Regions from separate parts of the Homo sapiens genome. Here region 2 is linked to region 1. Evidence: fine-mapped expression QTL. A gene starts in region 1. The other region holds a variant in brackets. All regions are shown on one strand. Distances are between the middles of the regions.

What was found. PIP is the estimated chance that this variant, and not a neighbour inherited with it, causes the effect.
Region 2: its variant is fine-mapped to the expression of STK17B in whole blood (INTERVAL, PIP above 0.99). The same link has a PIP of 0.9 or more in subcutaneous fat.

Annotation. Positions count from the first base shown.
Region 1 is chr2:196,168,988-196,174,368 of GRCh38, forward strand. STK17B (serine/threonine kinase 17b) reads right to left here and starts at 2,591. Exons shown (of 8, transcript NM_004226.4): 1 at 2,346-2,591. It overlaps LOC101927454 (a long non-coding RNA gene), which reads left to right and starts at 2,552. Exons shown (of 2, transcript XR_923737.2): 1 at 2,552-2,644; 2 at 2,918-3,861. RefSeq lists silencers at 1,917-2,136, 2,657-2,886.
Region 2 is chr2:196,207,212-196,212,592 of GRCh38, forward strand. All of the region lies in intron 28 of HECW2 (HECT, C2 and WW domain containing E3 ubiquitin protein ligase 2), which reads right to left. Among named protein-coding and RNA genes, the nearest start is that of STK17B, 38 kb to the left of the region's middle. RefSeq lists an enhancer at 4,515-4,564. The variant C/G (reference allele first, on the strand shown) is at 2,774.

The DNA of each region.
Region 1 (5,381 bases):
TACCCATACAGTGCAGAAGATTTCTTTATGAAAAGAAGAATCAATCAGTATCCTTTAAAAGTAGTAAGCCTAGGAATACTATTTTTTTTTTTTTTTTTTTTTTTTTTGAGACGGAGTCTCCCTCTGTTGCCCAGGCTGGAGTGCAGTGGCGTGATCTCGGCTCACTGCAACCTCGGCCTTCCGGGTCAAGCAACTCTTCTGCCTCAGCCTCCCGAGTAGCTGGGACTACAGGCGCGCGCCACAATGCCCGGCTAATTTTTGTATTTTTAGTAGACACGGGGTTTCACCATATTGGTCTCGAACGCCTGACCTTATGATCCGCCCGCCTCGGCCTCCCAAAGTGCTGGGATTACAGGCTTGAGCCACTGCGCCCGGCCAGAATACTATTCTTAACTGCCAATCTTACATACAGAAAATGTGAATTACAATATACTATGCATGCAATTTTAAGGCAATTTAACGATTAAGTGAAAGTGTTATTAACTGAATTCCTTGACTTCTTGTGTCTCTAAAATTAAAGCAAAAATATTTTCATAAGGAAATTCTCCCTTATAATTATCAAAGAGCTTTAAAACATGTTAAAATGTTCACTTAACAAAAGTAAAACAGAGCAAGCTTAAAAATAAAATTATCTGATTAGAAACGTCAGCCATAAAAATGCTTGTATCTTCTTCAAATTTGTTACTCATATGCTAACACAGCGATTAGTCAAACCTCCAACTTCCTAAAAACGCATTCTATCTTAACCAAATCGTAATTCACTAATCAATGATCCCAAGAGAAACCGCAACCATTCTATTCACACACAAAAAAGGATGGTCTTCAATTACAGAAATTCTACTTTTAAAAAGTCTTGCCATGTAAGCAAATATATTTCACCTCAATTTTGGATCCCTACTTTAGAAAAAAAAAAAGATCTAAAATGTACAATATGTATCTCAAAAATAAAACATCTATTAATACCTCCAATTATTAAGATACTAGAAAAAGTTTAATTGAGCATCTGCTCAGAGGAGGAGGATCCGAGGCAGATGAGTTTAAAACTTTTGCACCGCTTCTATGGACCAGTTTTCTTAAAAAATACACAATCCTAGGGGTACACGGTCTAATATTTATAAAATAAGCACTTGTTGAAAATTACTTCCGAACAGTTCACCATAAAACTAAAAAACAGTGTTATCAATGAGAAAGTAGGTTTATTTTCCTTTAATAAAATTGTGCTCCTGGGTTCAAAATGCCAGGTTACATACGCTGCCACTCATTTCTACAGAGCTATGCTGTCTCCGCGCAGACATTCTCATAGACTTGAAAACGTAAAGTGGCCACACCACGTCAAACGTCCCTGGCAAGGTTCTGCTTATCATTAGCACCACAGATGTAAACATTACGTCGACAAAACAATCGGTGAATGTGATACACAGTCCTCATGTGTTTAAATATTAGTGAAATCTGATAAGTATTACGATTTTAAAAACGTATTTTCTTAATTCCAATTTCCAAATTGATGTCAGAGTGCCTCTAGTCCAGACAGAAACTAATGCCAGCTACCAGCTGCTATAAAGCCTCTTTCAACTTTGTCTCTACTTCTCCCTCGGAGGAAATTCAAATGAAACGCTTTTCCCTACAATAAAACAAAGAGCCTGGGTAAATGTCAAAAATCGTTGGCATCCAGTAGTGGTATAGTTTGAGGATGAGTCGTGCACACTAAGTGGGTCACAAGGCATCAAAGCAAAAATCAGATCGCTGAAAATCACGGAAACAGCTGTAGCCCGTCTTGATCTCTCGCTGGTTTTAAAACACTGTTCCCAAGCAGTAACTGAAAACGTCCCACAAGATGAACACGAACTTTCTCTAGACGAAAGGCAGCTGGGAGCAGGACGCGTCCACGAGTCCCGATGGGAACGCGCCCACGCCGCAGCTGGGACTCGGGAGAGGCTAGGGGGACCGCGTGGCCTTGCTGTGGAAGGGACCCGCGCGGGCCCGCCGCGAAGGGGGCCCTGCCTGGCGCGACCTGGGGAGAGCCGGGGCCGGCCGGGTGGAGGGCGCACGGGGACACACGGACACGCACAGACACAGACACGCGCCCCGGGCTGAGGAGGGTGGTGGGAGGACCGCCGGCCGCCCCCCGCGCGGAGCCCCAGGGAACCCGGACTCCAGCCGCAAAGCGGAGAGGCGCCAGCAGCAATCAGCCACCTCAGGGGCGGCGGAGTCCAAGCCCCTCTCAGCCGGACCGTACCGCCTAAACCCTCCTCGGGTCCTCCTTCCTCACGTATGAGGTCTCTGTACCGAGGCGGCTGGTTCCATCGCAGCCCCGAGCCAACCCGCCAATCCCGCAGGACACTAACCGCTCCGGCCGCCGCAGGTTCTCCCGGGACTGCCCCCTCCAGGGGGCCGCTGTCCCGCCCCACGCCGGGGGCCGCCACAGGACGAGTTCTCTAGCTCCAGCCGGGCGAGGCGCCAGGGAGCTCCGAACGTGGCAGGATCCACTTTTACTTTTCCAGACAAGGGCCGACGGTTGTGACCTGGCTTCTCGTGAAGTGACTCCTGGCGACAGCAGCGGAGAGGACTACCGAAGCTTGCAGTCGCGGTTTGAAAACTGCAGCCGCGTCTGGGGCATCGCCGTTCGCCAGATCCCTCCCCCTAGGTCGGGAGAGCCAATCGGAACGGGTGCGGAGGGTGGGTCTGTCACGTGACGGGAGGGGCGGGGCACCGGCCGGGGGCGCGTGTGCGGGGCGGGGCCCGGCGGTGAGAGGGTGCGGCGCCTGGCTGGCCCGAGGCGGGGCGGGGAGGCGCGGCGGCGTGGCGGCGCAGGTGGGGCGCACTCGGGCTGCCGCGAGGGAGGGGCGGAGGGGGCGGCGCTGCAGAGGGGGCGCGCGGGGCTGGAACTACTGCTCTGTGTACTCCTTCCCACCTTCAGAGAGGTCAGTTCGAGAGGTGTGAATATCCGGAGACCGGGGAGAAGGAAGCCGCAAAATTCGTCCCAGCTGCCTGCGACTAGTTACCAAACTTCAGTGCCTACCAAAGACCTATTTTCTGACTCTTCTTGAGAGTCTTCCTTAGGACCGGAACGTACCCTGTAAGTGGAGAACCCAGTTTGCTACAACTTGGCAGAGGTTCCTCGGAGTGTCAACATCAGTTGGGGATTTATGGAACCTAGACCCCACTGCTAACGTCCGCTGTCGCGAATGGTGTCCCTTCTGAGGCACTGACTGAAGGCAGTGTAGGGAGGGTCCCAATAGGCTGAATAGCCGATTTTGCATTTATAGTGCTAAGGAAAAAGATGAAAGCCCTCAGCAACCTACTCAAGATCTGTTATCCTTTGAAGACAGTGGAAATTTTCAAAGTTCTGTGCAAGACACAAATGTTTTACATAGATATATAATCCTAGTTTATATGTATAGGATACACACATACTCATACATATATGGGATTAGTTATGTAATCTAGGATTGCTTTCAGAGGACATTTACGATAATTGCAGAAAACCCTTCCGTGGGAAAGGATACTGGGAGTGGAGTCGTCCTCTTGCTTTCAAAAGACTTAATGTTCAGTTAGCATATAAAGGACAGGTTTTCTTGTTCTATCCCAGTAAGCCAAGCAAATTCCTGTGAAGCTAGCTGTTTCCCTTTCCTACTGCATTTTCCCCAAGATAAAGGTATAGAATGCATCACAGCCCTTTTATGAAGTCTGTTTGTTGTTACTTAGGTTAACTCCTCCTCCCAGGTTAATAATGTCTTGCCCCTAAACCTTGTCAAATGGAGAATATTGCTTCCATCTATCTAATTTCTTGTTGCTAACAATTGGGCTGACTAGAGAAGCCTAAAGTTAGGATGAAAATAAAATGCCACACACTGGAATTAACTTTTCTGGGGTATAAGAATCCGTAAGCAATGAGACTGTTCCCATCTTTTCTTTCATGAGCATAGGTGTTGCATTCCAGAGGTCTCAGCACCAGTACCAAAACTAGTAACCTCTTGGGGGTCACAGGATTACATCATTATGGTGGTTTTGGGGTTGTGTGTTTAACTTTGGACCTCCTTAATTTCAACATTTCATCAATTGCCAGCTTTTAGCAATCTTCTCACACTCACCCCATACTCCCCGTCACTAATCCAGTCCCAGATCACTTCACACCTAGACACAGACTTTTCTCTCTCTGGCACCACTGTAAGCCAGTCCTCTTGGTCACAATACCTCTGCTGTAACCAGCCAGCCTCCTAGGGATATTGTCATGTCTTGCATTTTCCTGCTTCTGCCTTAGCTCCAGCTTATCACCATCCTCCTCATCCATACCTGTTCATCAGTTTCTGACTTTAAGAAGGTTACCCTCTTCAGGAATCAGAACTCTGCTGATTCCTACTTTCTGTTCCCAGCCTGATCACCTCTGCCTTATGTTCTTTGGTGCAGGGCTGATAGTTTGTGTTTCTTTTATGACCCTAAATAGATTGTTAACCCTTGTGCCTGATGTCAGATTTGTTAACTAGGACTTACCACACTATCCCAAGGACATTCAACTACACTTACTTGGTCTCAGGCACTGTGGTTCAAGTAACAAGGAATTCCTGGTGCTGAGGAGGAGGCAGTACATCTGTGGCCTTGCAGGAAAATTCAGAAGTCAATACATTCCTCCATCCACCTCATTTACCTAAACTCATTCATCACCGTGTCAAAGATATATGTTCCTGCTCTCATTCCCTTGAGTAGGAAATCTCCAGGTGACCTGATGGTCATTCTGTGGTCATTGCTTCTGACCACACAGTTCATTAAGTTGACCATCCTTGAATGACACATTCCGACCAGGGATGGCGGTTGTTATGGGCTCAGTTGTGTTCTTTTCCAGTTCATACGTTGAAATTCTAACCCTCAGGAACTCAGAGTATGACCGTATGTGGAGATAGGGCCTTTAAAGAGGTAATTAAGGTAAAATGAGATAATATGAGTGGCCCCTGATCCAAGATGACTGGTGTCCTGATAAGAAGAAATTAGGACACATACAACACTGACTAAGGGACCACCCTGTGAGGACATAACAAGAAGGTGGCCATTTGCAAAGCAAGCAGAGAGGTTTCAGAAGAAACAAGACCTGCTGATATCTTGATCAACAGCCTCTAGCCTCCAGAACTGTCTGTTGTTTAAGCTGTCCGCTCTGTGGTATTTGTTATGGCAGTCCAAGCAAACAAATACAGTGGTCCTCCTGGATCACTCCAGGTTAGTAATCACACACTGACTGGGAGCGATGATCGTTCCCAGTCACTGCTTACCACATGTGGCCAGGGAAGGTGATCCTCTCCGGTAATGGCACGACACTCACCATATTCTGTCCAGGGAAGGGACCTTCCCCAGTCACATCAAGTCAGTCACCGCATACTGACCACATAATG
Region 2 (5,381 bases), 38 kb after region 1:
CTTTAAATAAGGCAGGGAATATAGGAAATGGGTAGAGGGACAGATGATGAATTCAAGGGCGTGAAATCAGCATGAGAAATCCAAAGTTACCAATTAAATAGAGTGATCGAATTCCATTAAAGGAATCCAGTTATAGTTTTGTTAGCCTGGGTAGCTTTATTAACACAACTAATGGTAAAACTTGTTAGAATTTTTAAAATATTCATAATTTATCTAATATCCTCATGAATACCTTCTTAGGCCATGAGGTTTAGAGCAGAAATTCCTATTAAGAGTAGGGCACAAATATGTGTGTAACTTATGGCAGCAGAGCACAATGCCCTGACCTTCACCAGGTGTTCGGTAAAGGTGAATTCATGGAAAGAAATTCTATGGTGCTTGCTATTCCAACTACTCATTGGTCATGTTCCATTTTGGGACCAATGATGTTGGTTATCTGTTCATGTAAATATCCATTGCTTCTCTCCCTGTGTTTTAAGGTCAACGTATATCTCCCACAAGGTTCGGCACTTAGTAAAGCCATGAGGAGTATCTATAGACGGGTGAGGGGAATTAATCTATTCACTAATTAATGTCTTATTCCAAAGTCTCATTAGGTCACTTTGGTTAAGGTGCACTTGGATCTGTAAATACAAAGTGGAATATTCCCATAGGGGGGAATTCCTGTATCTGGGGTAACTAGCAGAAGAAACTCTTCAAACTATGCATTCTGAGCAGGTACCTTCTTCACTTGTGAATGCCTCTGGGGAGAGATAAAGAGGGTACATACTTTTCAAATGTAAGAATTTAAACCAAACAGAACAAAGTCCAGTAAGGACAGTTCCAGGAATGGAAACCCCTGTAAGTCCAAACAAAATACAAACACGCTGGGTGAATATGGCACATTTCTCACACACCTAAAGACTATAAAGTATCCGGCCAGCCCTGAAGGCTAGATATTAGGAAGAATAGTAAGAATGGCTAAATTTATTGAATGATGTTTTAGGCCTTATTCTAAGCACTTTGCATGTTATCTCATTTAATCTTCAAAACAACTTTGTAATATAAATGCTAATTTCTATCCCAACTTTTCAGATATGGATACAGAGATATGAAAGTCTGGATTATGATTTTGGAATTTCTTGTCTGGAGTGGTCCAAAGTTATCCCTAAAGATTTCAAATTCACTAAAAACAATATTTATGGAGTACATGTGCTAAGCACTGGGCTCACTGCTAGGAGCAAAGCCATGTTTAATTCAGATAAGGTACTTGTTCTCACAGGATTATACTCCAGAGGAGGAGACAGATAATCAACAAGTAAACCAATAACTGAACATGATGACTGAATTGGGTCAAGCCTAGTGAAGGAAGTAAGGGGTGAAAGAGTGACAGGTGCACTAAGGACAGAAGCCTGGTGGGCCTTTCTCAGGAGATCACCTCTAACCCGAGTCTTGGGGACAAGAAAGAGCCAGGCATGAAGGACCAGCAGATAAGTGTTATAGGCAGCAATTCCCTGAGCCTTGAAGCATAATTGAGTTTGGCATATTTGAGGAATACACAGAAGGAGGCTGGTAGGTGTCATGGGTTGGGGGAGAGGGTACATGTTGAGGTTGCAGGAGGAGGCAGACCAGGGCCCCACAGGAAGTCCTTGGGAAGGAGTCTGGATTTTATTCTAAGCCACCAGAGGGTGTAGGCAAGGGAGGGAGGTGACCTTGAGATGTTTGCAGATCCCAGTGGTTGTTGAGTGCAGAATGAATGAATGGTGGGATGCAGGAGAAGCAGGGGATTTAGCCAGCAGTCTACTGCAGTAGTCCAGGTGAGGGGGGATGGTGTCATGGACTAGGCTGGTGGAAAGAAATGAGCCCAAACTGGTTTTTGCTCTTGAGGCCAAGGAAAAGTGGGTAAGCATTCTTTAACTGTTGCAATGTCTGTCACTCACAAATAGACACTTTAAAATCTGACTTGTGAAATAGCTCTCAAGGACCTTTAGTAGATTTGACTTGGACTATCCTGTCCTCTGTTGTCAGCAGCAACAATGCTGATGGAATGCAAGTGGAATGATTATCTCATTCCATTAAAGTCACAAATTCTTTCAATAGCTTGACGTTTTACATTAATTACAGAAGAGTCCCTTTTTTTAATACAATCTGTTTTTATGATAAATTTACCCACCTCCCAAAGTAAAGACCAATCCAAAAGGTATATGACATTTAAGAATCTTTAATATGGTGATGTGATGGGTTAACTCTGGCATGTTTTTGTTAGTACATGCAGATTCAATGGCAGAATAAAGTGAAAATTTAAAATACAGTTATATAGAACTGAGTGAGAGGGCAGAGGGGAAAGGAGTTGAAGAGAGTCTTGGACCTGAGGTTCAACTACAGAGCAGACCACTGTATGAGAATCTCCTGTCAATTCTCTCCCACACGAAAAGCCACATCAGCTCATCAGCAGGCGGTAGGGAATTAGGAAGACCAACGAGGGACACCTCAGGGCAAATATAGAAAGGAGATGGCCCCAAAGGGTCCTTCTAGTACTCATCTCTTGTTCTGATGGTTTTTCTTTCTTTCTTTCTTTTTTTTTTTTTTTTGAGACGGAGTCTGGCTCTGTCGCCCAGGCTGGAGCGCAGTGGTGCGATCTCGGCTCACTGCAAGCTCCGCCTCCCGGGCTCCCGCCATTCTCCTGCCTCTGCCTCCCGAGTAGATGGGGCTACAGGCGCCCACCACCACGCCCGGCCAACTTTTTGTATTTTTAGTAGAGACGGGGTTTCACCATGTTAGCCAGGATGGTCTC[C/G]ATCTCCTGACCTCGTGATCTGCCCACCTTGGCCTCCCAAAGTGCTGGGATTACAGGCGTGAGCCACTGTGCCCAGCCTGGTTTTTCTTTTAATTGAGGAAAGTGACATTGTATTTCAGGACTTGGTTATTTTCCGGTATACTGGCTGATAATTCACTTTGACAGTAGACAATGCTCCCTATAATGGAGGAGGGAAAACTGAATTATTGATAACATTACAGAGCAATATTTAATGACATGGAAAGATGTTCCATGTGATAAACGGAATGTTGTTTTAAAATGTGTGTGTGTGTGTATGTGTGTGTCTGTGTGCCTGTGTGTACCTGAAGAAATGAGTGAAATCACATACTCTAACATGTTAACAGAGCTTATCTTAGTAATTGACTTTTTTTTCCTTCAGAAATGGTATCTCTCTATGTTGCTCAGGTTTGACTCAAACTCCCATGCTCAAGCCTTAGCCTCCCAAGTACCTGGGACTCCAAGCATGCACCACCATGACCAGCTAGTAGTGGACATTGGGTGGACATTGGATTGATACATATGTAGGTATTTTAATATATATTTAATATATACATATATTTCTTAGCAATTTTTTGTAAAATTTTCTTTTTATAAATTAGAATAAAAAGCAGATTTTTTTTTCTTTTGAGATGGAGTCTCACTCTGTCACCCAGGCTGGAGTGCAGTGGCATGATCTTGGCTCACTGCAACCTCCACCTCCTGGGTTCAAGTGATTCTTCTGCCTCAGCCTCCCGAGTAGCTGGGATTACAGGTGCACACCACCATGCCTGGCTAATTTTTGTATTTTTTTTTTTTTAAGTAGAGATGGGGGTTTCACCATATTGGCCAGGGTGGTCTCAAACTCCTGACCTCAAGTGATCTGCCTGCCTTGGACTCCCAAAGTGCTGGGATTTCAGGTGTGAGCCACTGCACTCTGCCAAAAAGCAGAATTTTAAAAACAAAAAGTTGTTATGTTTTTAAAAAATAATTTTATCTTTTAAAGTTCTATTCCATTAGATTAACTGTCTCCATAAGACATCTATTTCATAATTAACTCTTACAATTTATTTCTTAATTTCAGTTAGCATTTCATTCATAATAATCTCCAGACACAGCCATTTTCAAAAATTAACGCTTTTCCCTTTGGCAATAACCAACACACCCCCATGACGATTGCAGCTCTCAGGTCCTCCGTCCCATCACCCAACTTGGCAAGAACCTGGGGGATGAACACAGAAACTCACACCATGGTGGGAGACAGGACTGCTCTGCAGTTTTCAGGCTGGCATCTTAGCAGCGCATTTTTTGGACTGTTTGAGAGCAATTGCCACAAAGTGAATGTACTCTCTTTTCATAAAGTCCATCAGAGCACCAGGGGTATGAAGTCTTCCACAGAAATGCAAAATACAGAGCTAACCACCGACCGCGAAGCAGAGGAAGTGCAGTCATGTGCTCAGGCTGTAGGTCTCCATGGAGACACCCTTCTGTCTACATCCTTATTTATCATCTGGGTCTCTAGTCACTTCATAACCACAAGAGGAAAAAAGAGCCATGGATTCAACTTGCACTGGCTGCAGAGACAACCATATATACTTTTATATACTCCTTGACTCATACTGTGAGCAGCGCTATCCACTGCTACCGCAAAGTGAGACTAGGAAATCTGAGAAAAGAATGAGACTCACATTTGCCTGCTTGAAAATTGAAAGGCCCTCCATCATCCTTGTCTAGAAAGACTAAGATTCTCTCCCTCATTGCTCCGGTTGCCAGGACTGCCCTCATCCTTTACAGCCCCTCCAACCCTCCAGGGCAGAAACTCCCATGCCCGACACAAGACCATGCCAGACTTCTTAGAGGATTCTTTTTTTTTCTTTTTGAGACAGAGTCTTGCTCTGTCGCCCAGGCTGGAGTGCAGCATTGCCATCTCGGCTCACTGCAACCTCTGCCTCCTGGGTTCAAGCGATTCTCCTGCCTCCCGAGTAGCTGGGACTATAGGCGTATGCCACCACGCCCAGGTAATTTTTGTATTTTTAGTAGAGACAGGGTTTCACCATGTTAGCCAGGCTGGTCTCAAACTCCTGACCTCAGGCAATCCGTCCGCCTTGGCCTCCCAAAGTGCTGGGATTACAGGTGTGAGCCACCATGCCCAGCCAGGATTCATTTTTTAAGTAAGAAGGACATCTATCCATTTTTCTCCCATGTGTGCAATGTAATTTTTTTTTTAATTTTAAGTTCAGGGGTACTTGTGCAAGTTTGTTATAGAGGTAAACCTGTGTCACTGGGGGTTTGTTTTACAGATTATTTTGTCACTCAGGTATTAAGCCTAGTACCCATTAGTTATTTTTCCTGATCCTTTCCCTCCTCTGACCCTCCACCCTCCATTAGGCCCCAGTGAGTGTTATTCCCCTCTATGTGTCCTTGTGTTCTCATCATTTAGCTCCCGCTTGTGAGAAGATGTAGTATTTGGTTTTCTGTTCCTGTGTTAGTTTGCTAAGGATAATGGCCTCCAGCTCCATCCAGGTTCCTACAAAGAACATGATCTCATTCTTTTTTATGGCTGCATAGTATTCCATGGTATATATGTACCATATTTTCTTTATCCAGTCTA